2 separate regions of the Homo sapiens genome follow, and region 2 is linked to region 1. Evidence: fine-mapped QTL for protein levels in blood plasma. Region 1 holds a variant in brackets. A gene starts in the other region. All regions are shown on their reverse strands.

Region 1 (15,278 bases):
GAGGTTCAGTCCTGCTCTGTCATGAATTGGCTACATGACTGAGGACCAAGGACTTGAGTTTTCTCATCTATGAAACAAAGATATTGGATACCAGTCATTTTCAAACATTTCTTTTTCCAATAAGCAGAACCCTTTTCAAATGAAATCTTATGTATAGTGCAGTTGCTCAGAGCAGGTGCTCTCGGCTGCCCTCTCACCCTTTATGGTAGATCTTGAGGAGCCTCCACAAGCATCACAGCACTGGTCAGTACTTCTGCACATGAGGTCTGAGGACCACCTGCATCTGAATCACCCAGGTGCAGATTCCTGGGCTCTTTCCCGGACCTCTTGAATCAAACTTTTTGGGTCTGGGACTGAGGACTCTATTTTTAATGAGCACTTCATGGGATTCTCATGTACATTGAAGTTTGAGTACCACTAGGCCAGATATTTCAAGGTTCCTCTCAGGCTTTAAGTACAGTGACTCTGTGATCCTCTTCAGCTTTGGTGTGATGGTGAGGAGCCAAAGAAGGGGAGTCAGTGACTCCACCTGATAAAAAGATTTAACAGCAAATGGAATATTGAAAGTATGAGGATGGATTTGATAGTAATAGTAGTAGAGATGACAGTGGAACAAGGAGGGTAGGATCTGAAAGTTACAAAATGGATTAGGTAAGGAAGAAGAACTTTAATCATCGGGTCTTCCAACAGTGGAGATAAATTGTATTCCAGATGGAAGAAATTGTAGCAAAAGGTGTCAGGAGACAATTCAAAGCATGAGGCTACTAGGGTAATGTCCTGATCATATTCCCACCATCTTTCTTTGTCTTGATAATAGCACTCTATTATATCATGACACATAGTATCATAATGGTCTCCTTACCTTTCATTTACTTGTCAATCTTTATTGAGTGAATCCTGTGTGCCAGGCATTGAGCTATATTCTGCAAATGCAGGTCAACCCAAACAGACATGTTCTCTGCAATCACAGAGCTTAGTGTCTGGTCAGGGAAGTAGATAATAAAATAGCCATGCTAAGTAGTGTATAATTACAAACCAAGGCAAATGCTGCTAAGGAAAAGAGTGTGGTTCTAAAGACAGGTATTTTTTTGTGGGGGTTGGTAGAGGTGAGGTGAAGCAGTTTAGGAATGGATTCTTTAAGGGAGTAGTACATTTGAGCTGAAAACATAATGATGACTAGGAGTTAACTAGGCAAAGGTGGTAATAGGAGTTGGAGCAATGGGATGAGAAGAATTCCAGAGGGAAAATCATGTGCAAAGGTCCTGTGGAGGGGAAGGAGGATGGTGATTATGAGGGACTGATTGGCAGAAGTCCAGAGAATAAGGCGGAGAGAAGAGCAGGGGCAGACAGGGCTGGAGAAGCCATCAGAGGCCAGACCCTGCAGGGCCTTCAAGGCTACATTAAGAGTTTGGGTCTTTTTCCTCATAACAGAGAGATTGTGTGGAAGGGTTTGTCTTTGGAAAATCTCATACCTGCTGCATGGGAAGAAGCTAATGCAGAGGGGTCAAGATAGATATGGGGAGAGGCTAATTGCCTATTGCTATACTTGTCTGTCTGTTCCTATTACTGCTGTGACTTACTTGAGGCTGAGACAATCTCCATATTCCCATGCAGTTGATACGCAATAATTACATGATAGTGGGCAAAATGCACTAAAGTGAATTAAATAAAGCCTCTTGGGGCAAAAGCAGAATATATTTTAGACTCCTCTTTTCTTCCCTGTAACTAATATGGGGCAAGGAGAAGTATTCATATATTGTGTGTTTGTGCACATCGCTGCTGGCTATCATTGCACTTGAGAGTGTGAGGTCCTCGGATACCAAGCCCATCTTTACCCTAGTGTTCTGTGTTATTGGGAGTCTCTTGGGCACTGCTGGAAATTAACATGTATGGGACAGTGTCTGACACTTAAGGAAAGGGAAGGATTTAGGTCTGCCTGGACTTCATTTCTTAATTAGCAGAGCTCAAGATATGATTTGAAGCAATGCTTACTGTTTCATTCGCAGCTGCCCCCAGGTTGCAGCAAGTTGGACAAGCAAAAATGTGACAGGCAGCCCTAGACACCCAGTGGAGAAGCAGAAATAGACTTGCTGGGGTTTGCAGTGGACGTTTCCCTTGCAGCGGCACTTTCTGAATTGCCTGGACGACGAAGAGTATTCACCCAGCTGTCCTCATCTGTTACCTTGCCCCTTTCCAGGCATTTATGTTCTTACATGCTTTCCCCTTTCACACTGCTAAATTTAAGGCTTCATTTTCAAATCAAATGCTCATCTGGCTGGCTGCCTGAGAAATCACATGTGGAGCACTGAGAGACCCAGGCAGGGGATGATGCCCTTGGTTTTGGAGAGTAGGTCTGGAAACCATATGAACTGTAAATAGTTTCAAAATGTGAAAAAAAATTTAAAGCTCTGCCAAAAGGGAAGAGCTGAGGTTTTTTTCTTTCTAGGCTCAGTTATTAAGTATCTGTTGGAAATAACCTACCTCTATCATAGAATCTGTTTACTCTCTCCGTCTGTCCAGGGTGGACAAATCCAGACTTAACCACTGTGAGAACTCAGCTCTGCAAATGCTTGCTTTATTAGAAATAAGTTTTGGGGTCACAGAACCATAGCTAAACTGCTAGATGCATAACTTTTATGGGAATTTACTTTTATTCATTTAATCCTTCCTTTGAAACTTGAGTGATAATATGTTAATATTTTTAAAAATAATAGAACCTAATTTTCCAGTAAGAATAAGACAAATAAAAAATGAGAAAAGGTACATGGCTTCCTTAATTTGCACCCCATCAGATAACTAATGTACTAGAGTATCACTTCTCATTTTGAGAAATATTTTTCAGCATATGTCCTATTTTCTTTATTAGTCTTTCTCTTTTTCACCTGATCCTTCATTATAGTTTTAAAAGGCTTTTTTTTTTTCTTTTTTTTCTTTTTTTTTTTTTTTTTGCCTTTGGTCTCAATTTTTTGTGGGTGCAGAGGTGAAGAGATGCTGTCATGCTTTCCACACTAGGTTACCAGGGACACCTTTCATTCTGTTTTGGTGGCTGTCTTTAGATTCTTTTTTCTTGCTTTCTCTGTATTCTAAATTTTGTCTTTGCTCTGTATCTCATTTCTTACTCTCTTTCTAAGGATGAAGAAGAAAGAACACTGGAATTGAGATAAAAAGAATGATAGGAAAACAATAAGCAACAGAGGCCCTATTAAATAGGGAGCATTTTAGAGTAATAGATGCCTAAAAATGTAGGGATTAGAGTTTATGCAAACAAATATGCAAAGGACTGTGGTATAAATGCTTATAATTGGCCTGCAGATTTGCTTGTGTTAAATTTCAAATCTGGTACTGATAATGTCAAACTAATAAAAGTTTTACCCAAATGTACCTAATTATGGTCACGATCCCTGGCACGAAATCTCCTGATTAACCAAATTGAAAATATCGTTCCCAGTAGTGGCTCTTGTGATTAAGAAAGGAATTCAGAAGAGAGAAGATTATTTATACATATATTTAGACATATTTTTACAGACTATAAATAAGACCATAAGGTCTTGAAACCCCTTGATCACTAGAAAGCAGAGAGGGCTTGGAGGAGTATGAGACCAGCCTGTCATTGCTATTAAGCAGAAAAACTTCATCCTGGAGCTGGGTGGAGCACATAACTTAGAGTGTTTCCCAGAAAGTAATTAAAAGGGCAACTTTCTGGCAGAAAGTTTTCATCTTCCTAATAGAGAAAAATGGAGTCTACTCCAGGCAAAAAATTATCATATAGATATATCCAGGGAGTAGAAAAACAACCTAGAGACTTTGGGGTTTGAGTAGTGCCAATGAATAATGAAGGGATTACATTAGAAGGTCTTTCTTATCCATCTCATTCCTAAAATATGAGAAATGCAACTGCCATTTGATATACCATCCCTGAGCCCAAGGCTTTCCCCTGTTCCAGGGACTTACTGTGGTCAGCGGGGCATGGGGAAACAGATTTAGGACCTTCACCAGAGGCCAGGTTTACCCAGACCTGACGGGTCTAGAAATAGAGGATTTTTTGGGGCACTCTAGTTCATGTCATAGGTTGGGCCAGGGGAGCGTGTCGCAGTTCCTGCTTACACTCTAATCCTATTGGCTTGAATTGGAAAAAGTGATAAGCCTCAATAATACAGCCAATTTTGTTGGGGTCATTTGATTTATTGTCCCAGCATTGTTAAGAGCAGACATAGCATGGGTGCTCTGAACCAGAGGAATCTTTAGGTCTATCTTATTTCTGCAGATAGTGAGTATCTCCCATGTGCCAAAGATGATTAACGTAGCATTTCTGTTTTCATAACTCACAGTTTGTAGGGCAGGGAGACAACCAAGTTTTTAGTTTCAATATAATGTATAGGAGGATGGATGTGTTGATGGACCTCAACGGAAGCACTAAAGAAGGGGTACTTAGGCCAGTCTGGGGAACAAAGGAGGCTTCTGAGAAGTGAGTTTTTATCTAAAATTTATCAACTAAAAATGTGAAAAACTCAGAAAAGTAAAAATGTCTACTTTTTAGGGAAATGTATTATCCCTTGTTGTTGCATTTTTTTGTGGCAAATATACATATATGCAAAAGAGCCCATGCAATATATGCAATTTTGCTTTCCACTTTTTTCCTTTGGAAAAAAGTTTTTATTTATTTCTTTTATTGTCTAAACTGATATCCTTTGCCTTACAATGATTCATCCTGTCCTTACCCTCTTTCCAGACTTTGTCATTAGCTTTGTTACACTTTCTTAGGGTCTTCCCAGGAGACATAGCCTTGTGAAACTATTACTCGTGTCAGCTCTAGAACTAAATATGCTATGCACACATTATGAGTGATCACATAAATAGCTAATCTGTTCAAATATTCCTTCACCAATATGTATTGAGCCCCTAATATGTGCCACGCACTCTCCTATGTACTAAGGATACAGAAATGAGGAGGCCAGATAAATCCCTGCCCTAGTGAACAACATTCTAGTGTGGAAGACACATAATAAACAAAATGTAAATAAATAATATAATTTCAAGTAGTTGTAAGTACAACAAAGAAAATGAAATAGGGGAATAGGATAGAGAGTGATGGGATGGGAGATGGGGAGATGATTTTAAAGACGGTGACCAGAGAAGGCCCCTTGAAGAGGTAATATTTGAACTGAGAGGCAGCTAGCCATGCCAAGATCTTGGGTAGAAGAAACAACAAGTATAAAAGCTCCAAGGTGGAAATGAACCTGACAGTAAGATGTCTACTGTGGCTAGAGTATTGTGATAAAGGGGAGTGCTGAAGGGCTGGCAAGAGCCAATTCCTAGAGGTAGTGATAGAGAATTCCAATTTTATGTTAAATGTAATGAGAAGCTACTGGAGGGTTTTCAGCAGGAAAATTATATGAACAATAAAAAGATTTCGCTGGCTTCTGTGTAGACAGTAGACAGCAGAGAGAGACAAGAGCAGAATGACGGTGACAAATTTTGTTTTCTACTCTTGTCCAGGTATGATGATGATGCCATGGACATGAGTGTTAGCAGTGAAGGACATAAACAGAAGTAGAATTATCTATCTATCTATCTATCTATCTATCTATCTATCTATCTATCTATCTATCATAATCACCATCACTCATGGATTTTCAGACACACATGCACACACAAATAGAACAGTACAATGAATCCTTTTCTATGTATTACATAGCTGCAGCAACTTGCTATTCTTGTATACTTGCATACTTCTTGCTATTTTGTATCAATTTTTATTATTTTATTTTCTGGGGTATTTTAAAAGCAAATCCTGTATGTCATATTCTGTTATCTATCAATACTTTAGTATTTATCTTGAACATATAAGGATTTACATATATTTAGCCATACTACCATTACTACATTTGACAAAATAGCAGTAGTACCTTAATAAATATCACCTAATAACCACAGACTGAGATGTATTTTGAGGGCAGAGGCAATATGTTGGTGTACTGGGTGGGTATGAAGAGAGGCATCAGGAAACCTAGTTGTTGGCTGAGGTTCCAAGATGGAGAAAACTGGGGAAGAAGCATGTGGTGGTGGTGGTGGTTTTCTGCCTGGTCTAGGAAACCAGAATTCTATCAAGATATTAGTCATTCTGTAGAGGAATGCATTACTGAAGCTTAGGGGAGAGGTGTGGGCTGAAGATATAATTTAAAAGTCATCACACTTTGGGAGGCTGAGGCGGGCAGATCACCTGAGGTCAGGAGTTTGAGACCAGCCTGGCCAACATGGTGAAACCCTGTCTCTACTAAAAATACAAAAAAATTAGCCAGGCATGGTGGTGGGCACCTGTAATCCCAGCTGCTTGGGAGGCTGAGGCAGGACAACTGCTTGAACCTGGGAAGTGGATGTTGCAGTGAGCCGAGACTGTGCCATTGCACTCCATCCTGCCCGGGCAACAAGAAAAACTCCATCTAAAAAAAAAAAAAA[A/C]CAAAAAACTCATCCAAGGCCTGTTGCAGTAGCCTATGCCTATAATCTCAGCACTTTGGGAGGCCAAGGCAAGCAGATCACTTGAGAGCAGAAATTTGAGACCAACCTGGGCAAATGGGCAAAACCCCATTTCTACTAAAAATATAAAAATTAGCCAGGCATGGTGGTGTGCACCTGCAGTTGCAGCTACTCAGGAGGCTGAGGAGGGAGGATTGATGCCTGGAAATTCAAGGCTGCAGCAAGCAGAGATCATGCCATGCACTCCAGTCTGGGCAACAGAGACCCTGTTTCAAAAAAAAAAAAGTCATTTGGCCACCTTGGATGAAGATTCTGGGCCCTACATAGTGGAGAGAGGAACTCTAGCTCTCAGGCACTCTAAAGTTTGAAGATGGGCAAAAGAGAAAGGGCTGGCTAAGTGTGTGAGAAGCAGTGACTAATGAAATAAGAGGAAAACTACTTGGATGTTCTGGAATTAAAACAAAGAAAAGGTTTGAAGAAAGAGGGGGTGGCCAACTGTGATAAATAAAGTGAAGACTGAGAACTGATCATTGGATTTAGTAACATACAGGATGACCAGAGAGATTGCAGTTGGAAGGATGGAGACAAAATCCTGATTGGAGAAAGCATGGACAGTCAAGAAGTAGAGAAAGTGAGTGCAGATAGCTCTTTTGAAGACTTGAAATCAAAATCAGAATGTACAATCCTTATAATGAGGTGCTTCATAATAATAAAAAATAGTCACAGTATTTTAAATGTATATATTATTTTACAGTTTACAAAATGCTTTAATGAATCTATTTCATCTGAAAGTAAAAAATGTCATGAAAGACAGGTGTTTAAATGTTAGGTGGGTTTGTGGCATTTCAAAGACCTCAGTTTTCTGAATAAAGACATTCTGAGGGGTTGATAAGAGCCGGTTTTGGTAGGTCATAGCAGAGAATTCCAGTCTCAATCAATATCTTGCCTGAAGGCTGGTTGGTTCTGAAGCTTTGACTCAAGTGCATGTTTTCCAGTTCTACAACATGTACTCTTCTACTATGCTACATCATTTCCTTCATAAACAAGGGGGCCAATATTCTCTTCTTTAAAGGTGTAAAATTTAAATTCCAATTTCTGGCCCATTCTCAACAGAATTTGGTTTCTGCAAGTGTCAAGATTGTTCCTAAAAAGTCATCCTCAAAGGACAGGGACAGAGTCTTACTATAAAATTTCCTGGTTTTTGTTTAAATGACCGATCAAGATTTGTCATTCATGGATTTACATTGACTCGAACTTTGTTTCTCCTCATAATGAAGGTGCTGAAGGTACAAAGCTGAGGGTTTAATGACAGGAAGTACTCTGGTAATTGTAAGGAAGAAGATTTATCCTGGTCCTGAGAAAAATGTAAGTGACATAATGGTCGAAGCTTCAGAGAGTAGAGATATTTTACCCATGATTATAAATAAATCCTGACTGAAATCTGTTGACGTGATGTTAAATTATGATTCTGAGAAGACAAGCCTAGAGGGACCAGAATAATACAGTCCAGGCATATAGTTTTCGGATGAGCTCACCATTTATGGGGACAAAGCTTGGAATATCTTGAGAAATGAAAGTTAATATATCCTTTATTAGACAATCTTTCTGGTCTATCAGTTTTCTCACTGGACTTTTGATGACAGCTATATGGCAAACAATCTAACACTGAGGTCATTCTGAAGTGCAGGTATTCTTCATTGTTGACGGGAAGATATCCATATACTCCGGGTATCAGAAGACAGAGATAGTTTAGTTGTGGTTATTTAAGAGCCAGACTTATATTTTTCCACTAGTCTTCAGGTTTTTTGATAACCACAGTCTGTATCTGATTCCACTTGCAGCTCTGACACTCAGCATGGTGTCTAGATTAGAGGGGTCATTTTGTACACATAAGAGTGGTCTTAAACTCATTAATGCAGGGTGATGATACCGCATATGCCAGTGATGAACTCATTAAGAATTCTAGGGCCAAGCTTGGTGGCTCATGCCTGTAATTCCAGCACTTTGGGAGGCTGAGGCGGGCAGATCACTTGAGGCCAGGAGTTCAAGACCAGCCTGGCCAACATGGCGAAACGCTGTCTCTACTAAAAATACAAAAATTAGCCAGGTGTGGTGATGCATGTCTGTAATCCCAGCTACTCAGGCTGCTGAGGCATGAGAATAGTTTGAACCCAGGAGGTCAAGGGTGCAGTGAGCCAAGATGGTGCCACTGCACTCCAGCCTGGATGACAGAGTGAGACTCCGTTTCAAAAAAAAAAAAAAGAAAAAAAAAGAATTCGACTTATGTGCTATCCCATTTTTGAGGAACTAGGGATGATAAACATTACAACTTATTTTGAAGTGACATCTTGAAATTTTCTTAAAAAGTTCTGGGACAGTATTACTGCAAACCTAATAAGTAAATCAACTCCTGATATTCCAGTGATACCTTTAATTGTACTTTGTGCTGTAAAATCAGAAATGCTATTTCCAGAATGTTAGGTTTTCTGGCCAGAACAAACCACATCACACCATTGAGCAACACTTTCGCTTTGTCTGTGTTGCTATGGCTTGTATTATTAGTTGACATGTAAGGCAGCCAATATTTTTTCTGGTTTAAGAGACATTAGGTTATCTCTTCACTTGGCTCTATATGGGCAAATTGATTGAGACTATCACTAGAGGCAATGAAAAAATATAACATAGGCCTTTTATCCTGGAACTAAGATATCCAGGTTTTCTTTTCCATTGGAAACTATCTTCTTTTGGGGTATTTGTTTTTTTCAAAAAGAGGATAATTATTTGCTATTAAGCTTAGTAAGAGTGAATTCTCTGATTTTTCAAAATAATATGTGGCCACTTAGATGAAGAAAATAGTTGATCTACTTGGGCTAAGGTGATTGTACATTTTTTAAATCAAAATATGTTCTTCATATAAGAAAGATTTCAGAAACAGTGATTTTTTCCTATAGACATTGTTCTTAGGATAGTTAGATAGTCGGTGGTTATCTGTAGAATATTTTTAATAGATAGGTACTAGAAATGTATCTCCCAACTTTATTGTACTGTTGGCAAAGGAGGTGAATCAGATGACCTAATATTTTACAGATTTGTTTTCCCCAGAAGTTTTAAACTTGGATTGGGGAAGCACAAAGATTCATGGCAGCTTGCCTGCATTAACTTTATAGTATTGAAATTGAAATGATAGAAAGGTGGAGCTTAGAATTAAAAAAGGAATATTGGTTCACACCTGTAATCTCAGCACTTTGGGAGGTTGAGGCGGGAAAATCACTTGAAGCCAGGAGTTCAAGACCAGCCTTGGCAACAAAGTGAGACCTCCCCTGCCCACTGCCCCTCAAGGGAATGTTATAAATACATGAAGATATTGATAGCAAAGCTGGGAATGGGCTCTCAGTTTGTAGTGGATGTTTTGCTGTGCCACCCACATCCCCCCTTAGGACTGCAGAACATATTTTCCCAGCTGTCAGGAGTGCTGCCCACATATAACCTTCAGCTGGCAGTCCTCTCTGGGAATTGCCCTTGGCTGACGAGAGTGTTTTCCTTAAGGACACTCCTCCTTTCTGGGGTCATCCTGCATCCAATGACTGAATCATGCCATGGTATAAAGTCCTGGTCCCCTTGATCCTATTGTAAAGGCCTGTTCCAGCTCCAGAGCTCCAGAGCTCTCCGTGGTCTTGGCTGTGGCTTTCATTGTGGCTACATCAACAGCCCAACTGCTCCCTCTGTCCAGCAGTGCTTCTTTCCTCTCTTACAGGTGTTAATCCCAAGAGAACTTGCCAATCAACCTCTTATACATAAAGCTCCCTCTAAATCTACTACCCAGGAATCCAACCTAGACCAATAGCTCTGTTTTCTCCATGGTCAATCTAAGATAGTTCCTCTAGCTTTCATAAGGGAGAACAGATGGAATTGTCTTTCTTTGAAATCATTTTCTTCTGAATTCCTGTGTCTTCATAATCTATAGCCATCTATTCACAGAATCCTACTAAGAATCTACAGAAGATAGAGTCTTAGGAGGCTCATTTGGGCAAGGGTTTCAGTTTAGGAAAATGATGAAAGAGAATACATTTCCTGTAAAACATTCAGCAGGCTTATTGTTCAGGTAAAACTTAGTGAGTTGATCATTTTGTTTTCAAAATAGGAAGACTAAATTGTGTGTCTATTTCTGCATCTGAATAATGCACAATAGGATTTATATAAATTAGGCAGGGCATCTGTAAGATTGATTACTTTTTCTCAGCAAATTGTTAAACTAAATTCTCCATGCTATAGCACTACATCTTTCATCATCTCTTATTTTCACCCTCCTCCCTGGCAAAATTGGTGAGAGAGCATCTTCAGCAGCTGACCAGAGACCTCCCTGTGTGATTTTGCCTCAGCATAAGCATTTTGCTAAGAAGAATGGAGGAAAAAGGGAAACATCTGCATTCTTTAAAATAAATAGATTCCAAAGATATGAGCGTTATGTTCATTCTCAACGTAGTGAGATCCTGTTCACCAGTCTGTTATTAGGGGATTAGGGCCAAGCTGTATGTTTTCCTCTAGCGCAGCTCTGATGGTACTGGGATTGAAAAGAACCAGAAACTGCTGCTGTCCACTGAGTGTTTGTGTCAGGGGATCATGATTGCAAGCTGTCTTTGGATCAACTGGTTTTAAATGCTGGGAGTGTGCACTGTTGCCATGATTGGGTCCTTTCAGCTCCTTAGGGTCCAATCTTTTTCTATATAGGTAATACATAATTACTCTGGGAAATAAAAAGCAACAATAAATATAGATGTATTAAGAGCATGGGCTTTGTAGCCAGACAAACTTGGGTTCTGGTCCCAGACCTGCCACTTATATGTGACCTTGGCCAAGTTTTCTTCTATTACTTCTTTCTGCTTCTATTCTTCTTTTCAGTTGGCCATTAAAATACTAATATGTGTAATGCCAAATAATTTAAACAGTACAAAAGAACGTAAAATGGAAACGAAGTCTCTCTTCCATCCCAATTTCCCTCTTCATTTTCTTTCTCTATTGTCAACCACAGTAGTTTCTTGTGTATCTTTCAAGAAATTTTCTATGCCTATAAAAATGTATAATATATCCTACATGCACTTACTTCTTTTTACATTTCCTAATAATGTAACTTACAGCATATTTCATATTAGCACATATAGACCTACCTTATCCTTTTCAGTGGCTGCACTATATTCCATTGAGTGAATGAACCATGATTAAGTAAGTGTTTCATTGTACATCTATCTAATTCCTATTGATGGACATTTTCGTGGCTTCTAATCAATTTCTGCTACAAATAATGCTGCAATAAATATCCTGGTACATTCATATTTGAGTACCTGTAGGATCAGTTTTCAAAGTGTGTGGTCATTTAAACTTTTGATAGATACTGCAAAATAAGGCAAAGATCTCAATTTCTATGAACCTCAGTGTCCTATTCTGTAAAATGGAAGTCAAAACAATACCTATCTCTAGGGCTGTTGTGAGGATTAAATGAGATAAGATACATGAATAGTGTTGCCAGATGTAGCAAATTAAAATATAAGACTCTATTTAAATTTGGATTTCAGATAAACAATAATAATGTTTTTGTATAAATGTGTCCCAAATATTTCATGGAATATATACTAAAAATAATTTGTTGTTTATCTGAAATTCAAATTTAATTGAGGTGTTATTTATTTTATTTGGCGCTCTATACATGAAGGGATCAGTACAGTCCCTGGAATGCAGTAAGCACTAAATAAACATGGGATGCTATAATTCTTATTAGACATTCAGGCAAATGCTATCATTCAGCAAATGTTTTTGGAAATAATGATTCTATACTCCTTAATTTATTTATCATTCATTCACTGCATACTTACTGAGTGCCTGCTGTGAACTAGGTATTATTCTAAGTCCTCAGGATGGAGTGGTGAACAAAAAAAGTGTATGAGCAAGGGAATACTTTTGAGTGTTATAAGGCTGACATGTACTTGAGATTAAAGAAGAAACCAAGCTCAGGGTTAAGTGGATTGATTGGTTAATTGGGGAGGTCAATTATATTGACCTTTATTATCTACTCTCTCTAGTACCCCAACACTTCTGTAGCTTGTGAGGAAATCCCCTTTTCAGGAATCCATGTTGCTGGTGGGAAATCAGGAGCATTAGAACATGGAAAGGATGACCTTGATGAACCCATTGAAAATCCCCTCTTTTGTTTCTCAAGCTTTAGCAATGCACTTGCAATATTGCTTCCAAAAGTGTTCCTTAAGGTCAACACTTGATTTTCAGCTTCTGAAAGCAATAGTCTAGTGACGTGGAGCATGATAGGTGCTACCTCACTCTCAGACTTGCATTTTCTCAAGGAGATTTTCAGTGAAGTCTAGCAGCTCTTAGTATGCTATGCCTCATCAGGAAGAAGCAGGTTCAGACCAGTTTATCAAAAATTATTAGTTGCAGTTGCTATCTCTTACCTCCTTTTCTTAGAACTCAGAGTTCTGAGAGTAGATATATAGTGGCATATTTTTAAAAAATTTGCTTCAAATAATTCTAGTTGCTGTTCTGTGGCAGTTAAACTCCGTATGTTTTATGGTGCCTTTGGAATCTAAATTTTATGAATTTTTTACTTGGATTTTGGCTTATTTAGCAATTGACTTGTGAGTTTGCTAAGGTAAAGGCTATCTTATTATCCCATATGTATTTAAAAAAACGGATTCTAAGAAGCATTAACTAGATTATGTCAGAGTTTTATACTCTGAAATAATTATATGATGCTGAAAATTGAGCCACATTTTAAAATCTTATAACTTCTCCTTTCTTTTCAGAATATTCATATACTGCAATTCATCTACAGGAGTTTTCACCTTTTGACAATGGCAAAAGCAAAGTTTGAAGGTGCTGAGTCTGTGGAGCCAGTGTCACCTTCACAGCCCAAAAGGCCATCCTATGTCCCCCTAGAAGAGCTATGGTGCAAGATTGCTTTAAACATGAACCCTGAGAACAGCTGCATCACACATGTAGAGCCAGGGAGTGTCTGCTTTCATGTTTCAAGTTGGTGACAAAACCCAATCACCATACAAGCTAAAATTTTAGAAGTCTAGAAATATTTTGAAGATGAGTTTTAAAGCAAATCATTTTGTCTGACCCTCCAGTTCTGCTGGGATTTTTTTTATGTATTATTGTCAGTGGTGGTGGTTGTAGGTAGGACAAGAAAAATGATTGGATTCAAAATATAGATTATTTAAATTTGTTTATAGGTCTTTATCAGTTTATGCTTATTCAGCAAGTTTGGGTACTTCTGTTGCTATGATCCTTAGTGCTCATTAGATGTATCTCTGAGTTCCTAGTTAAGTGCAGTTATATATATTAATATTTGCTAAGACAGAATAGGGGATAATGTAAAAACTCCTCTGATTGTATTGTACCCACTGATTGTTCTACAGGGATATATTCAAATCAGAGGTTAAGCAAGGCATCTCACACAGACTATGGTTTACCAATATCTCCAGGCTCTTTTTCTGTAAACTCTAGTTACATTTGTAGAGTGTTATTTTCTCCTCTTTAAAATAACCTATTTTGTGCTTCTTTTTCTTACTCTTCGTTCAGTTTCTGATAACTTTGTCAAATCATAAGACAATTTCCTCTCATGGTCTTACTTTGTGAGGGCTGTGCTTTCTTCTTGTTAGGGTTCTGTCCACAAACCTGAAAAGTGTGTCCAATTGTCCATTGTAAAGGTTATTGATGAAGTAGTTTGGATTGTGCTAGGCTCGGCGTCAACATCCAGAACTACTGCCTACTGTTTCTTGTATAATCCTTCCTAGAGCTTGTGCTATACAAGTTGGAAGAATAAGAGTTTGGAAATAAGACGCAATATCATCTTGACTTCTTCCTGAGACAGGTGCACTTTCAGTAGAGACTTCAAGGCAATTTGGTAGCAGTGCAGTTTCCAAAAATGACACAATAGCCTTCTCTGTCCACTCATGCCCATTTTTTCTAAGATGCTGTTTGCTGAGAAGTGTCACTAAGGTGCCAGAGGAGGTGTCTCTAGGAGAAATTAACCAGCACATAATTCATACCTGTAAAGATAAATGAGATTTAGAAGGCTTCCTAGGTTCTTCTATTGTTGTCAAACTAGTTAAAGTTCAGAAAAGTGTAGCACTGGAAAAATGATTGAATTCTGGCTAGAGATGAAAATACTGCAATTGAAAAATTTCCAGAACAACGTGTACTTGGATCTGTATTAAAGAAAAATTATTTGAGTGTTTAAGCCAAATGATCCAGCAGAGTTGATAGTGTGAGGCATATTTCACAGTCGAATAAATATTTAAAACTATTTTCCAGCCTATAAAACAAGTAAATTAGGTTATTTTTTTTAAAGTACAATGAAATTAACCTGTCCACCTCAACTTGTTGGGCAAACCTGCTCTACTCATCCCAACCTTTTCTCTTAGAAGGGAATCTCTGAGAAAGAAATGTGATGAAAACTTCCAAGTTGGAAAACAAAGCTGGTTTACATTTCAGGGAATTTCAGAAGGAATGATTAGCATCATGGTATACTGGCCCAGGTGGTCTGCATCCAGAGGGCCTGTCTGGTTTTGGACAGCCCTGACTAACTTGTCATCAGGGGCCAAATTCAATGGACACAATAGCTTTTCATAATAAACCCCTTTGAACTGGGTGGAGGGTGGTCTTGGGGCTCCATCATATACATGACCTGCACAGAAAGCAGTGCAGTAGGTTGACTGTGTTGTTCTCTATTCTGAGCTGCTGTCCTGTTAGAATACCACCAAGCCTGTCCTTCAGCCTCAGTGCTGGTTTGT
Region 2 (15,278 bases), not on the chromosome of region 1:
GAGCATCAGGTAGTTGCCATTTAGTTGTGAATCCCCAGTGAAAAATTTAATGCAATAGAAGGTGCTGATATTTCTCATTATCTACCTTGCATATATACACAAATGTTTTCCTTGATTTTGCTAATAATGAGCGCCCTCTGCTGTCTTTAATCTGCCTCAATAGCCTGCGAGCTCTTCATCTGGTTGCTTTCTAAAATAAAAAATAATGTAGCAAATAAATTGTACTTACCTGTCTGGTTGTACTGCCTATCTTAGACATGAAACTAAGAAATCATATAATTCATACCTTGCATGGCTTGACCCTCCAGCACATAATAAAAAGGGATTTACAGCTAGCTTAGGGAGAACAATCATACCCTAGGCATTGTCTTGGGTCCCTAATCCCATCTTTGGAAATGGCACTTCTCCGACCTCAGTCACCTGAGATACCAACTGTTCTTCCCCATTGAAATGTGTGACTAGTTATCAAAATTTTAGACACCATGTAATTCTGGACCTTGCATTTCCACTTTCAAGGTTTTTCTGAAGACATAAAGACAAAAATGTATGCAAAATATGCATGCTCACTATAGCACTTTTTATAATAACAAAAAATATAATTAGATATTAGAAACAATATAATATACATTATATAAATTAAATTAATATTCACATAGATAACAATTTAAATAAGGCATATGTCATTCATATGTGCAATGTATCATTCATGTATGTTTGTAAATATTTAGAAAATGTCTTGAAAAAAGCACATCAATGTGAACAGTGGTTTCCTCTAATTTGTGGAATTTATGGATGAAGAGAATGAAAGTTACATATATGCATATATGTAACTACAGTTATACATAATTATAGTTGTATATAATTATATATAACATGTTAATTATATTCCATATGATTATATGATAATTATATGTATATATTTCTATATTCTGATGATCTTTAAAATAATTTTTAAACTTTTTAAGATAACTATAGATTCACATGAAGTTTTAAGAAATCATACAGAGCAATCCAGCATATTTTCTACCAAGTTTCCTCCAATGGTAGTATCTTGCAAAACTATGCTGCTACATCAAAACCAGTATGCTGACATTGATACAGGTAAAACACAGAATATTTCTGTCCTCATAAGGATCTCTCATACAGCTCTTATATAACACACTCACTTCCTTCCTGCCCCCATCGTCTCCTTAACCCCTGGAAATTACAAATTTGTTCTTTATTTCTATAATTTTGTCATTTTGAGAATGTTACATAAATAAAAGTATACAAAATTTAACCTTTGGGGTTTGACATTTTTTCACTCAGCATAATTCTCTAAGGATGCATCCAGGTTACTGTGTATATAAATAGTTTGTTCTCCTTTTTTGTTGAATAGTATTTCTTTACAAAGATGTCCAAAATTTATCCATTCATCCACTGAAGAACAACTGTGTTGTTTCCAGTTTTTGGCTACTAAAATAAAATTGTTATGACCATTTGTGTACAGGTTTTTGCATAAATATAAGTTTTTGTTTCTCTGGGATAAATGCCCAAGAGTACAATTGCTGGGTTTTATGGTAGTTGCATGTTTAGTTTTTTAACAAAATGTCAAACTATTTTACCAGAGTAGCTGTACTGTTTTACTTTCACACCAGCAATGTGTGAGTGATCCAGCTTGTCTACATCCTCACCAGCATTTGGTGTTGTCACTTTTATGATAATGTTTATCATCAGTTTCTGCCTGCCTTCCCAAACATAATTTGTCCCCAGATTCCTTCTTAATCCCTCTGTTTGATACACCCCTGGAAAAAAAACCTTCCAACCCAGTAAACTGTCAGATTACTGCTATTACTCAGAGTACAATGGCAGAGAACTTTATCCCCAATCTTTTCCATTTAATACCTTAGTGAAGACATAGAGAGGCATCCTTCTCAAATATGCAAAACACTGGGAGAGAGAGAGCAATGAAAGGCTTAATAATATGACTAGTGGAACAAAACAAAGGGGCCAACCCAATCAGATACAACTTAACAGAAACAATCCCATTTATTCAACAGAACCAACACCGACTATCTTCAGGCTCTGTGCGATGTGCTGAGGATACAGACATGTACATTAGAGTCACTAACCATTTAACTTGACAGTCTAGAAAAGAGACTTTGAAATAAGTATGAAAACAAATACGTTTAAACTTATATTATTAATGTGTCTATTGATTTAACATAGTGTCTGACTCTTTTTTTTTCAATCAGCATTAAAAAACTATGGATGAATTTGAAGTTGGGGAATAATTCCTGTATTTTAGGAAGTCTCCTTCTGTGTATGGATGATGGATTAGAAGGGGACCTTTGGGAATACAAAAGTCACTTGAGAGATTAACACAGTAGTTTGAAGGGAAATGACAAGATCTGCAGCTGGGAACAGTGGCTCATGCCTCTAATCCCAGCACTCTGGGAAGCTGAGGCAGGAGGATCGCTTGTGCCCAGGAGTTCAAGACTAGCCTGGGCAACATGGTATCTAAAAAAATACAAAAAACATTAGCCAGGCATGATGGTATGTGCCTATAGTCCTAGCTACTCAGGAGGCTGAGGTGGGAGGATCACCTGAACCCAGGAGGTCCAGGCTGCAGTGAGCTGTGATGGCACTATAGCACTTCAAAAAAAGAAAAGAAAGAAAGAAAGAAGAGAGAGAGAGAGAGAAAGAAAGAAAAAAGAAAGAAGAAAGAAAGAAAGTAAGTTTTAGGAACAGTACCAGTGGTGATCATGAAAAATGTGTGCAATAGTTGTGAAAAGGGTTGATAAGGCTTGCTTACCAATCAGAAAGGAGGCTGATGACAGAGAGTACTTAGGATTATTCCCAAGTTTCTGTCTCAGGCAACCACTAAAATGTCTGTGCTGTAAACTGAATAGCAAATTAAAACATAGGAGTGGGTTTTGAAAGAGAGACAATGAGTTCAGGTAAAAATGTTTGAGTTGAACCTAAAAAAGAGCATCCCTTGGAGGTGTCTTATAGGTAACTAAATCTCTTCTTTAAAAAAAAAAAAAAGGTATAGATTGTAGCCATAGATTTTAGAGTTCCTAACATAAAGATTATATTGGCGTCCATGGTAGTACATAAGATTCTCCAATAAAGGTTATACACAGAGTAAAAATAGAAGGGGAATCAAGTTTAGTATCTTTGGAGGTATCAATGTCCAAGGGAAGTCAAAAATAATAAGGGCCATTTAAAGAAACTGAAAAATAGTGGTCAAATAGCAGAAAACTAAGGTAGGCGGAAAGATGGCATGTAATTCAATAGAAAAGAAAATTGCAAGTATGAGAGTCATCTAAGGTGACAATTACTTTGAAGTCATCAAGTAATGTGGTCAATTACATTACATTAATCATATTTGGCACTGCTCTTTCCTATAGGATAATTATACATCCCCTTCCTAAAGAAGTCAAACATGGTCAAATGACTTGCTCTGGCCAATTAAACATGATTGGAAGTCATATACTTCACTTTTAAGAAGAAGCTTTAAGAGTTAGCTCATTGTTCACCAAGTTCTCTTTCCCTGTAAACATAAGCAAAATGCACAAGAGAGACTATTCCATCAGCTCCTGTATAGAATTCATAAAACATTGATCATAGCTACAGCCAACCAAAGATGGCCACATACTGTGAGGAACAAGTGACACACTGTGCACGTAAGCCACTGAGATTTGGGATTATTTATTACTGCAGCTGGGCAACCTAATCTATCATTATAGGCATAGGTAAAATAAGGAAATAAAGTAGGAAATTTCACAGAGTGAAAGCTATTTTAGTTGCCAAAAAATGGAAGTCAAGCAATGGAAGGAAATTAAGATAATATCCCTAGAGATAACATTTAACATCATCTTAGTCAGAAACCAATTAAGAAACAGAAACTACTCAAAGTACTTACAACAGAAGGAATGTAATGCAAAGAATTGATTGAATAGACATTAGAAGAGCTAAAAGTCAAGTAGGTGATGGTAAGGCACCCAGAAACTGACAACAGGAGGAAACCACTAACTTCAGCTGGAGAGAAAAAGAAAGGAGGTGGTGTAACCAGAGCCCAGAGGCTGGACTCACCCAGCAAAAGCTGGGACCAAGGCAGGCCTATCTAGCAGGACCTGGAGCTCAGACGTGGTACAGTCATTTCCAGAGACTTCTCCCTAATACAGAGCCAGAAAGGGTCATACAATAGTTTTCCTCTTTTCCTACTTCCTATCTACTGCCTGCGCCTCCCAGGGGCAGAACCTAGCCCAAATGTCAGCTGATTTGGGAACCTGAGAAATGCAAGCTGCAGCAATCAGTATCATGTTTCCTGTCCTGCCTCAACACACAGCAGAGCAGAGCAGAGCAGAACAGGGGAAGTGGAGGAAATGGACCTGACAGCAAACAGTCCAAAGACTGACACAGGCCAGGTCTGAAGGTCGATGGTGGCAGACATTCTAGGTAGGAAGAAACTTGATTTTTCATTAAGGTGTAAGAGTGTTAGAGGGAAAAGGATTTAGTTATCTGTTCAGTGTGGCTGGAGTAGAGCGCATGTGAAGAAAGGAATGTAGATAAGAAGACTAGACGTGTAACCAAAAGCCAGATCATGAACAGCCTTGCATGCCATGCTCAGAAGCTTGAAATCTGCTCTACAGGCCGTCATGATATTACCAGAATAATTCCTTGGAAAGATAATTCTGTCATCACTGTAGATGACAGAGTAAAGGAAAGAAAAGATAGTTCATCACCCATTTGCCTAAGGATGATGTAGTAAAGGCCTAACTTGGTGGAAGGATTGGTGAAAGCTATTGAGTGGCCATAGCTTAACTACAAACTTAAGAACTAGCATTCTAGTGAAACAGAAGCCAAACCAATGAAGTTAGTAAGATGCTAGTCTTATCAGACAATATTTTGAAAATTATTTTTTCATTTTTTAAATGTAAAAATTTATTTAGGATGGGGGATAGGAAAGTGAAGGGTCTGAAAACACCGTGAGATAAAACATTTGGGAAAAATAGAGATGTTTAAATTAGAGATAAGGAAAGGAGAAGGAATGATTATGTCTTACTTAAGATTCCAGGTTTTCTTTATAAAAACAGGCTCTCTCGAGTTTATGAACCAAGGGAAAACTAATCTGGATACGTCCTTCTGAATAGAGTCCCCAGAAATAAAAATAGGACGACTGAAAATGTATTCATTGCTTTATTTGTCCTTTTCACGGGTCACTACATTTTAGGGCATTTGATCTATAATTGGTAGAACAGGTTTCAGGCAGGGAGGATAGGAGCATCATCTTCCATCCCCATCCACCTCCGCTCTTTATCTTGATGTCACACCAAGTGTGATAGCGCCTCCTGAAATGTAGAAGGACAACAAAATTTAGAGCAGCTTACATGTAATTCGCATGTTTCAAAACATATTCACTTCCAGTGTCCTGTTTGGCCACTATTTTACTGATGGGGAAACAAAAACTCAGAGTGATTACGTCTCATCCAAAATCACGAAGGTGGTAAATGGTATTGTCACAACTATAACACATGTCACTATCATTCAAAAACCCTTCCCAGAAATGTAGAAATTGTATTTTTCCTGAGATTCCAGGATGTGCAAACTTCCTATGAATATAATCAGTAAAGTGGAAATGCACATTTACAAGGGACAAGAAGAGGAGCTAGACATTCAGGGTGAGTATGCCTCCCCTTTGGCAGATTAGCCTCCCAAGCTGTGGTTACCAGCAGTTTCTTCACAGCTTCAGAAGCCTCTGGTCCCAGCTCATTTACACACTTCCTTAGCCCCTCCACAAGGTGCTCAACAGAAATGCCCAGAGTTTTCAGAAGAAGCTTTAATGGATCCATAAAGGGAAGAATGTTGTCCAGAGGTAAAGGTGCCAACTTGTCAACAGGAAGGGGCACTTTGTTGATGAGGAAGGCAGTAGCTGCAGGAAAAAGAGAAACCAGGTGAGACAGGCACATCTGGGCCCAGACTATGACCTCATCTTCTTTCCCTGTGTCCATCAATAGCTCCATTCCAGATCCACTCATCTTACTTCCATTGAAAACTTCTACCTCTGGCCCTTTGCACCTGCTGTTCCATCTCCCTAGAACTTTTTTTCCTTAGCTAGCTACTTACCTTTCTTTCTCACATTATTTGGTCTCTCTTCAAATATTACCTCCTCGGAGAAGCCTGCAATGGCCATAGTCACTCTCCGTCATTTATTTTTTCTTACCATTACCTAAAAAAAGCAACTCTTCATTTGCTGTTTTTATTGTCTTTATTTTCTCATTAGAATGGAGGCTCCATGAGAACAAGGAATGTGTGTTTTTTCGCTAATGCACCCATGCCTACAACTGACCCTGGCAGCGTAAGCATTCAACAGATCATTGTGATTGTCTGAAGGCGATGGTATTTTGTATGTGACTGTCTCCACAGCTCACAGCTTTGAGGCTAAAGGAGAGATGCTATAGTGAATCTCCACATAAAGACAGGAATGGACCCAACCACAGCCCAAGAAACTGCTCCCAACCAATTCAACTCAACGCTACAAACATAATTGAGCACCAACTCTATCTAGTCTGTGCAGATACATAGACAAATAAGACAAGGATGCCCATTCAGAGACTTCACACAGTCCAGTTGGTGATAGAAGATCTGTGTATGCCACAGTGTAGCATGTGCTATGCTAACATTATGGACAAAGCTCCATGGAAACACAAGAAAGGGATGACTAATTCTAACATGAAAGAGTGCTGCAGGAATTTTCCAGAAGTGCTGTTAGAGCTATGTCTTGAGGCAAATGTCAGGATCATAAGGTAAAGAAGAGGAGAAGCATTTTAGAAACATGACCAATAAAGGCACGGAACCATTAGGATAAAAGTGCATACACAGGATGGTGAGCCTTCTGCCCAGAAGGCTGGAGTGCAGATTTCCAATAGGCTATGACCAAAGGATGGAAGATAAAGGGAGTGAGGCTGCAAAAGTTGAGTGAGGTCAGATTTTTTAAAGTGTTGGATGTCACACAAAGGAGTTTGGATTTTTTTTTCCTGAGGGCAGTGGGGCGCTATCAAGGCTTTTACATAGGAAAATTACGTTTTATATCTTTGGCTTTAGGAAGATAACTTTCCCGTAGAAGATGAATGGTGGGAAAAAGTAGAGATTGAGGAAAATATGTACGATGTATTTTTTACAAAAACATGTGCAGATATATAAATGCACACATGCATGTGAGCACACACGTAAGAACACACATCCTCCTACTGGCTAAGACCTGCCATAGTTTATTTTCCTTTGGAAACCTATTATTTCCCCATTCAAATTATTAAAATGGAGCCTGTATATATTTTTTTAAATTTTCAATCACCTATTGTCCCTCCAAAATTCTCACCCAGAGGGGGCGGTATTTATTTTCCCCACCTCCTTTCTGCTGCCACTTTGCCCATAGATACCTGTCCCTGGACATTAGAGAACAGTGAAATATCCAAAACTGGTGAAGTTACAAATTCCTTCAGAAATTCAATAAACATCAAAAGCCAAAGTTGCCATTGTAGGTGTGGGCGGCAATCAATTTTTCATTATTAATCTCCATACTTCTTATTTCAGACATTTTGGTAAATATCTTCTCTGTATGTGTTTACAGCTTCCTGGGAGAAGATCTTCAAAGCCTTCTGTTCTCTCAATGAGCAGTGGCTATCATGAAATCTCTTTTTCCCATGTGCCCACACTGTCTTCCTGATAGTTACAATGATTCCTTCCAAAAAAATAAATCAGTTCCCATTCTCCTCCAAGAAGCCAGCTTCTATACCCTTACCTGAAAATTAAACTAATCACCCACCAATACACTAAAAGAGTTCTATCTGGATATCTCACAGTACGTTTACAGTAGTCTAGAATTATAGTAACTTAGGCAGAAGCCCTATCTATCCTACCAGAGTAGCACCTTAAGAACAATATTTATGACTGCTTCATGTCTAAATCTTCCAATGCCTATCCAGTGCCCAACAAATTGTAGCCATTCAATAAATATCCATTGAGTGGATAAACAGATGAATGTAGCTATCTCAGGAGAACCAAGCTAGCAAATTGGATAACTGGAGATGATAGCAAGAATGACTCCATATAGTTCAAAAGCACAAAAGAAATTATAAAGTCAAATTTTAACTCAAAATTGAGGAAAATAAGAAAAACGAATGGTGACCAATATCCAGCAGTGAAATGTGCTTTGTTGACCCTCCGTGGAAGTTGGCTAACTTCCTATGTAGGATGTATTAGAATACTTATATTGGGCTAGAGCTTAGATGGTGGGGATCTGAAATACTTTCCAACATCACCATTTTCTGTGATTCCAAAACTTCTTCCAACCCTGCAAATATGTGCAATTATTATGTGTCAGTTAAAAGTAAAATAAAAAAAAATACAATTCCTACCACCATATTCCACTGTCAGTGAGGCAAGGCTTACTAGTTGTGCTCTTATTAACAGAAAAGTAAAGAAATGTCACATATTCCAGATGTATTCCAGTTACTTACCAGAGTAACTACAAAGGCTGATGGTCACCAGCAGGAAGATAGTTACCAGCTTCATGACAGTTATCTGGGATATTTTTCAGGAGTTTAAAAATCAGAAAAATCTAGCAAAATCCACCAAGCCAGTGGTTCCACTTGCCATACAAAGTGTGATGGCTGCTTTTGCACACACATATTTATATGCCCATTGAGGACCTGAATTCTAGTCCCTACCACTTGACTCACCCCACCAAAGAAAGGGATAAATGTTATGTTTTCTCACCAAACAATTTGGAGGGTTTTCCACTTCCCCGTGTGTTCCCATGAGAAACAAAGCTCTACAGTACAGCATTCTCAAGTACCTCTTGCATAAACCCTTGCACAGAAATAAAAGCAGAAGGCAAAGAGCCCAACGAATCCTTCTCCTGGAAGAACATTGAAAAGAAGTGAAGAATTTATATTTGGATTAGAAGGAGTGTTTTCCTCTGGTTTTCTACATTTTTCCCCAGTTTTCTAATCATTTAAAGTTTGGAGAATCACATTAGCTGATGAACTACCCAGTTGTGAAAGCAATCTGGAGGCCACTCTGGTATAATACAGAGTCAGCTTCATGACATTTAGTGCCACATTTCTCTGGAATTCACCTGCCCCCAGCCCACTCACACATCTACTATGGTAAGATTTTCACACCTCTGTTACCTTTTCCAGTGTCAGTTACTTTGAGTATGTTCAGAGCATGTCTTCTCTGAGCCTTTGGATAGAATAATAGGCTTAAGATCTAAAATCAGAGTGTCTTTTGAAAAACCTGGGATTCAATTTTCACTGTTTGTGTAATCTTGGATTTGACATTTTTAATCTAGGATATTGGTCCTCTCATCTAAAATGGGAACATAAATAACACAACCAACCATAAGGTGTGTAGCTTGGGGAAAAAATTGTTTTTGCAAGATTCTTTGGCAATCAAATCCGATAAAATCATTCAAAAATACGTAATTGTAAGGTACTGGCTACAGGAGTAGTAATTTGTTTCCAAGGCTGTCTTTCTGGATCCAGGGTTCAGCCACAGGACCTCAGGACAACTTCATTTGTGAGCAGAAGTCCTGGAGTTCTTTGGGGCATCGAGTGGGCCCGACATGCAAGGAAGAGGGTAAGAAAGAACCATGAAGGGGTGAAATAGAAAGCGGAGTCCATATGGGCACAGGACCAGCTCAGGGCTCCCCGGCCACGTGGTACTGCTGGCTCCAGCCATTCCCACCACCAAAGTGGAACCCAGAAAATTTTGAGAAAACACACCTTAAGATGTAAGGCCAGAGGTTGGGGCTTTATTTGTCCTCATCTGAGGGTGTGGTATTGTAATGAAGATCTAATAAAATTATGCAGACAGAGCATTCTGCTATGCCAAACCAAAATTAATATCTAATTTATGTCACATTTTACTAATTTTTATGTTACCATGTTGTAACTGTCATTTCTTTATCTTTCTGCTACTTTATAAACTACTTTATAAACTACATGAAAGACACCATGAATGCCTGCCATGCACCTCAATCCTGCCACTTCTCCTTCTTTCTCTACCAGTACTGCTTCCATTTCTCCCACATATTCCCACTGATGCCAGTGATATTAATATACCAAGCCCCTCAAAGAGCCAAGGTTGGTGGTAAGATTGATGCCGTTGCCGGAGGAACAGGGTCCAGCTGCTTGCTCTCGTGGTCCAATGATGAGATACAGGTGAACTGGGAAAGAAGCGAGTTTATTTTTGTAACCAGCCACAGGGAGAAGGTCGGAGTAATTTACCAGACCAACTAAAAGTTATGAGTTTTTCCTTTAGTATATATAAATGAATTTCAAGCTCTATGCCTATATGCAGGAGTATTTCTACTTAGCCTAAATCTAATCTTTAACTAGTGGTCTGTGGGCTGGAAAGTTTCTTAATTTTACATGGGTCCTGGTATGGTTTGTATGTGCATGAATGCTTTTATCACTCAATCAGGTTTGAGGATGAGAAAGCCCAGGTAGGGTCTTAACGGGTTTGTTTCTGCATTCCAGGTCTCCTACTCAGGCACCAGTTTCTCTAGTTCTTCAATGTTTAACTTACACATTCATCATTACAGCAAAGGGCTTATGGAGACTTGGTTGCTTGTGGAGATCCAGCCTGCCACAATGACGCCCTTTAGTTTTTTATTATGGTCTCTTTTGGAATACTAAACCAGTGCTGCCCTCAAATTTGTTTGCTTGCTTTTAAATCCTTTCTCTTCACTTTCATTCCTGGCTCTGTATTATAGAAAGTTGACTTTTTAAAATGTGGTTTCCAGGCTTCCTTGCTTCCAGGCTTCCTTGCCAACTGCATCTGATTAAGTTAAGCCAGGGGAAGGCACAGGTGAAAGAGTGGAGAGAGAGAGAAAAGGAGAAGGGATATGTCTCCCTCTCTCCAATTCAGGAGCTATCATGGGTAGTGGCTGCACCCTCTCCAAGGCTCATCTCCTTTTGGAAAGGTCCTTTATCTGTGGTTCCCCCTGTGCCACACAGGCCAACATTGTTCCAGCTTTTACTGCATGGCCCCAGCTCCTAGACCCCACCTTCTCATCACTGTCCTTCCTGACCTAGAAGGAGTAACAACTTTCTGCATTTTCTAATCTCAGAGTTGATTCATCTTCTGCTTGGTTGCTTTAACTGCATTTCTAGCACTTTGTAAATTACCCTACATGTTGAATTCTTTCTGTGTGGTCACTTGGTATGGTTTTAACTTTTTGGCTGGACTCTGACTGACACAGCATCCTAAAATATTGTAGCGCTTTCAATAAAAAATAGGTTTTCCAGTTTCTAAACTGACTTCTTATAAAAGCCAAGTTATAAATCCATGAGGGATAGGACCGAGGCCTCCTCAGGTGAAATATAGCATTATACATGCAGAAATGCTTCTCTCTTTTAACCTCTGAAATGATTGGTACTGTATCAGGCTTCTCTGCTGGTCCTAGAGGGCAAGTTCTTTCCAGGAGATTCCTGAGACCCCTGGGCAAATAGATTTCTGTTGGGTCTATCTAGTAGTCAGCCAGCCATGCAGTCTTGACTGGAATGTACATGAAAAACATCAACTCAAAAGCACCCACAAATATCCACATACATATACATATATGAATAGTAGTATGTATGTGTGTGTACATGCAAATCATATTATGCATACACAGATAACCATCAAACACTATTGTTTTCACTCATTTGTTCAACAAATGTTTATTGAGTATCCATTGTGTCTCAGGCACTGTGTCAGCAATTAGGACTAGTGCAGAAAACCAGACAAGCAAATTTCTTGCCTTCCTGGAGCTGACAATGTAGTGAGATACACAGGCAAGAAACATGTAAACAAACAGAAAACACTAGTGGTTAGTGCTGTTGAAGAAGCAAATAGAAAGCTGTGAAAGACAACAAGTGGATTGGGGGTATGCTCAGAATTGAAAACATACTTGGACTTGTTCACTTCTGGGCTTCCTATGTTTTGAGCCACTGTATTAATCATGTCTTTTAATTCTGTATTTTTAACGTTTTGACCCCTTGGGGCCTTGCTGACCTTGAAAGGACTGCCCTTCCCAGGACTAGCTAATTCCTAGAGATATCACCAGGAGCATGCCTTTCATATGCAAATTAACCAATCCAGAGCCCAAAGCCCCAACGACCTTTATTGGGCTTGTGCACTGTGGGCCATTATTCCCATGCCTTAATCACCCCATGACCAACTAGGGACAGCCCCAAGATCCCAGAGCCCACCAAAATTATTCACACTAGCCCATTTAAAACCTGCTTACCCCATCTCTCCTGTCTTCCTTCAGAAACCACAATAAAGACTCCTGCTCACATTTTCCTCCACTCCATCTGTCTCTTGAATAACCCTGGTGCTTCCCGTGTGCCTCCAGCCCCATGGTGTGTCATGGCCCCTTGTATTGGGATCTGAGCACACTAAAATCTCTTTTCAACAGCAGTCAACTCCTGATCTGTTCACAAGAAGAATAGAATCTACATTTTAAAACAGCCATGTAGCCTTTTCTTGTGCCTTTGTTATGGTATTGTTACTGTAACCACTCAATAGATTCACCTTGCCTGCTGCCTAGACAGAGCCAATGTATGAAGACAGGGGAATTGCAATAGAGACAGAGTTATTCACTTAGAGCTGGCTGTGGAGGAGACTGGAGTTTTATTATTACTGAAATCAGTCTCCTCCGGCATTCAAGGATCAGAGTTTTTAAGGATAACTTGGTGGGTGAGGGGCCAGTGAGTCAGGAGTGCTGATTGGTTAGGTTGGAGATGAAACCAGAGTTGAAGCTGCCCTGTTGCACTGAGTCAACTCCTGGGTGGGGCTACTGTCAGGCCTCTGAGCCCAAGCCAAGCCATCGTATCCCCTGTGACTTGCACGTATAAGCCCAGATGGCCTGAAGTAACTGAAGAATCACAAAAGAAGTGAATATGCCCTGCCCCACCTTAACTGATGACATTCCACCACAAAAGAAGTGTAAATGGCCAGTCCTTGCCTTAAGTGATGACATTACCTTGTGAAATTCCTTCTCTTGACTCATCCTGGCTCAAAAAGCACCCACTGAGCACCTTGCCACCCCCACTCCTACCCGCCAGAGAACAAACTCCCTTTAACTGTAATTTTCCTTTACCTACCCAAATCCTATAAAACGGCCCCACCCTTATCTCCCTTCGCTGACTCTCTTTTCGGACTCAGCCCGCCTGCACCCAGGTGAAATAAACAGCCATGTTGCTCACACAAAGCCTGTTTGGTGGTCTCTTCACACGGACGCGCATGAAATTTGGTGCCATGACTCGGATCGGGGGACCTCCCTTAGGAGATCAATCCCCTGTCCTCCTGCTCTTTGCTCCGTGAGAAAGATCCACCTACCATCTCAGGTCCTCAGACCAACCAGCCCAAGAAACATCTCACCAATTTCAAATCCGGTAAGCGGCCTCTTTTTACTCTCTTCTCCAACCTCCCTCACTATCCCTCAACCTCTTTCTCCTTTCAATCTTGGCGCCACACTTCAGTCTCTCCCTTATCTTAATTTCAATTCCTTTCATTTTCTGGTAGAGACAAAAGAGACATGTTTTATCCGTGAACCCAAAACTCCGGCACCGGTCACCGACTGGGAAGGCAGCCTTCCCTTGGTGTTTAATCATTGCAGGGACGCCTCTCTGATTTTACACTCACGTTTCAAGGGTGTCAGACCACGCAGGGACGCCTGCCTTGGTCCTTCACCCTTAGCGGCAAGTCCCGCTTTCCTGGGGCAGGGGCAAGTACCCCTCAACCCCTTCTCCTTCACCCTTAGCGGCAAGTCCCAGTTTCCTAGGGGGCAAGAACCCCCAATCGCTTATTTCCACACCCCAACCTCTTATCTCTGTGCCCCAATCCCTTATTTCCATGCCCCTACCCCTTCTCTGCTTTTCTGGAGGGCAAGAACCACCCCCCTGCAACCCCTCCTCCGTGTCTCTACTCTTTTCTCTGGGCTTGCCTCCTTCACTATAGGTAAGCTTCCACCTTCCATTCCTCCTCCTTCTCCCTTAGCCTGTGTTCTCAAAAATTTAAAACCTCTTCAACTCATACCTGACCTAAAACCTAAATGTCTTATTTTCTTCTGCAATGCCGCTTGACCCCAATACAAACTGTCGTCAAATGGGCAAATGGTCTGAGGTGCCTGACGTCCAGGCATTCTTTTACACATCAGTCCCTTCCTAGTCTCTGTGTCCAGTGCAACTTGACCCAAATCTTCCTTCTTTCCCTCCCGCCTGTCCCCTCAGTACCAACCCCAAGCGTCGCTAAGTCTTTCTAATCTTCCTTTTCTACAGACCCATCTGACCTCTCCCCTCCTCGACAGGCCGAGCTAGGTCCCAATTCTTCCTCAGCCTCCGCTCCTCCACCCTATAATCATTTTATCGCCTCCCCTCCTCACGCCTAGTCCGGCTTACAGTTTCCTTCTGTGACTAGCCCTCCCCCACCTGCCCAGCAATTTATCCTTAAAAAGGTGGCTGGAGCTAAAGGCATAGTCAAGGTTAATGCTCCTTTTTCTTTATCCCAAATCAGATAGCGTTTAGGCTCTTTGTCATCAAATATAAAAACCCAGCCCAGTTCATGGCTCGTTCGGCAGCAACCCTGAGACACTTTATAGCCCTAGACCCTAAAAGGTCAAAAGGCCGTCTTATTCTTAATATACATTTTATTACCCAATCTGCTCCCGACATTAAATAAAACTCCAAAAATTAAATTCCGGCCCTCAAACCCCACAACAAGATTTAATTAACCTCGCCTTCAAGGTGTACAATAATAGAAAAAAGTTGCAATTCCTTGCCTCCACTGTGAGACAAACCCCAGCCACATCTCCAGCACACAAGAACTTCCAAACACCTGAACCGCAGCCGCCAGGTGTTCCTCCAGAACCTCCTCTCCCAGGAGCTTCCTACAAGTGCCAGAAATCTGACCACCAGGCCAAGGAATGCCTGCAGCCCAGGATTCCTCCTAAGCCGTGTCCCATCTGTGTAGGACCCCTCTGGAAATCGGACTGTTCAACTCACCTGGCAGCCACTCGCAGAGCCCCCGGAACTCTGGCCTAAGTCTCTCTGACTCCTTCTCGGCTTAGCGGCTGAAGACCGACACTGCCCGATCACCTCGGAAGCCCCCTAGACCATCACGGACGCGGAGCTTCGGGTAACTCTCACACTGGAAGGTAAGTCCGTCCCCGTGTTAATCAATATGGAAGCTACCCACTCCACATTACCTTCTTTTCAAGGGCCTGTTTCCCTTGCCTCCAT

Direction of the effects. Positions count from the first base shown, and alleles are read on the strand shown. Strength reflects both the effect of a copy and how common the allele is.
For the plasma level of the protein whose gene starts at base 8,652 in region 2, A is the low allele of the variant in region 1 and C is the other (weak association).

What was found. A credible set is the group of variants that fine-mapping cannot tell apart. PIP is the chance, under the fine-mapping model, that this variant and not a neighbour inherited with it causes the effect. The UK Biobank Pharma Proteomics Project read protein levels with antibody pairs (Olink). The fine-mapping took linkage between variants from a reference panel, not from the people measured, so its PIPs are less certain.
Region 2: SCGB3A2 starts here. The variant in region 1 is the best candidate, but not a certain one, in a credible set for the plasma level of the SCGB3A2 protein (UK Biobank, PIP 0.62).

What each region holds. Positions count from the first base shown.
Region 1 is chr15:50,011,450-50,026,727 of GRCh38, reverse strand. All of the region lies in intron 6 of ATP8B4 (ATPase phospholipid transporting 8B4 (putative)), which reads left to right. Among named protein-coding and RNA genes, the nearest start is that of ATP8B4, 100 kb to the left of the region's middle. The variant A/C (reference allele first, on the strand shown) is at 6,457.
Region 2 is chr5:147,872,085-147,887,362 of GRCh38, reverse strand. It overlaps SCGB3A2 (secretoglobin family 3A member 2), which reads right to left and starts at 8,652. Exons shown (of 3, transcript NM_054023.5): 1 at 8,505-8,652; 2 at 5,715-5,917; 3 at 5,172-5,336. The coding sequence starts at 8,559. The coding sequence ends at 5,313. It also overlaps a transcript of C5orf46 not described here. RefSeq lists enhancers at 11,820-12,485, 12,486-13,153, 13,154-13,819.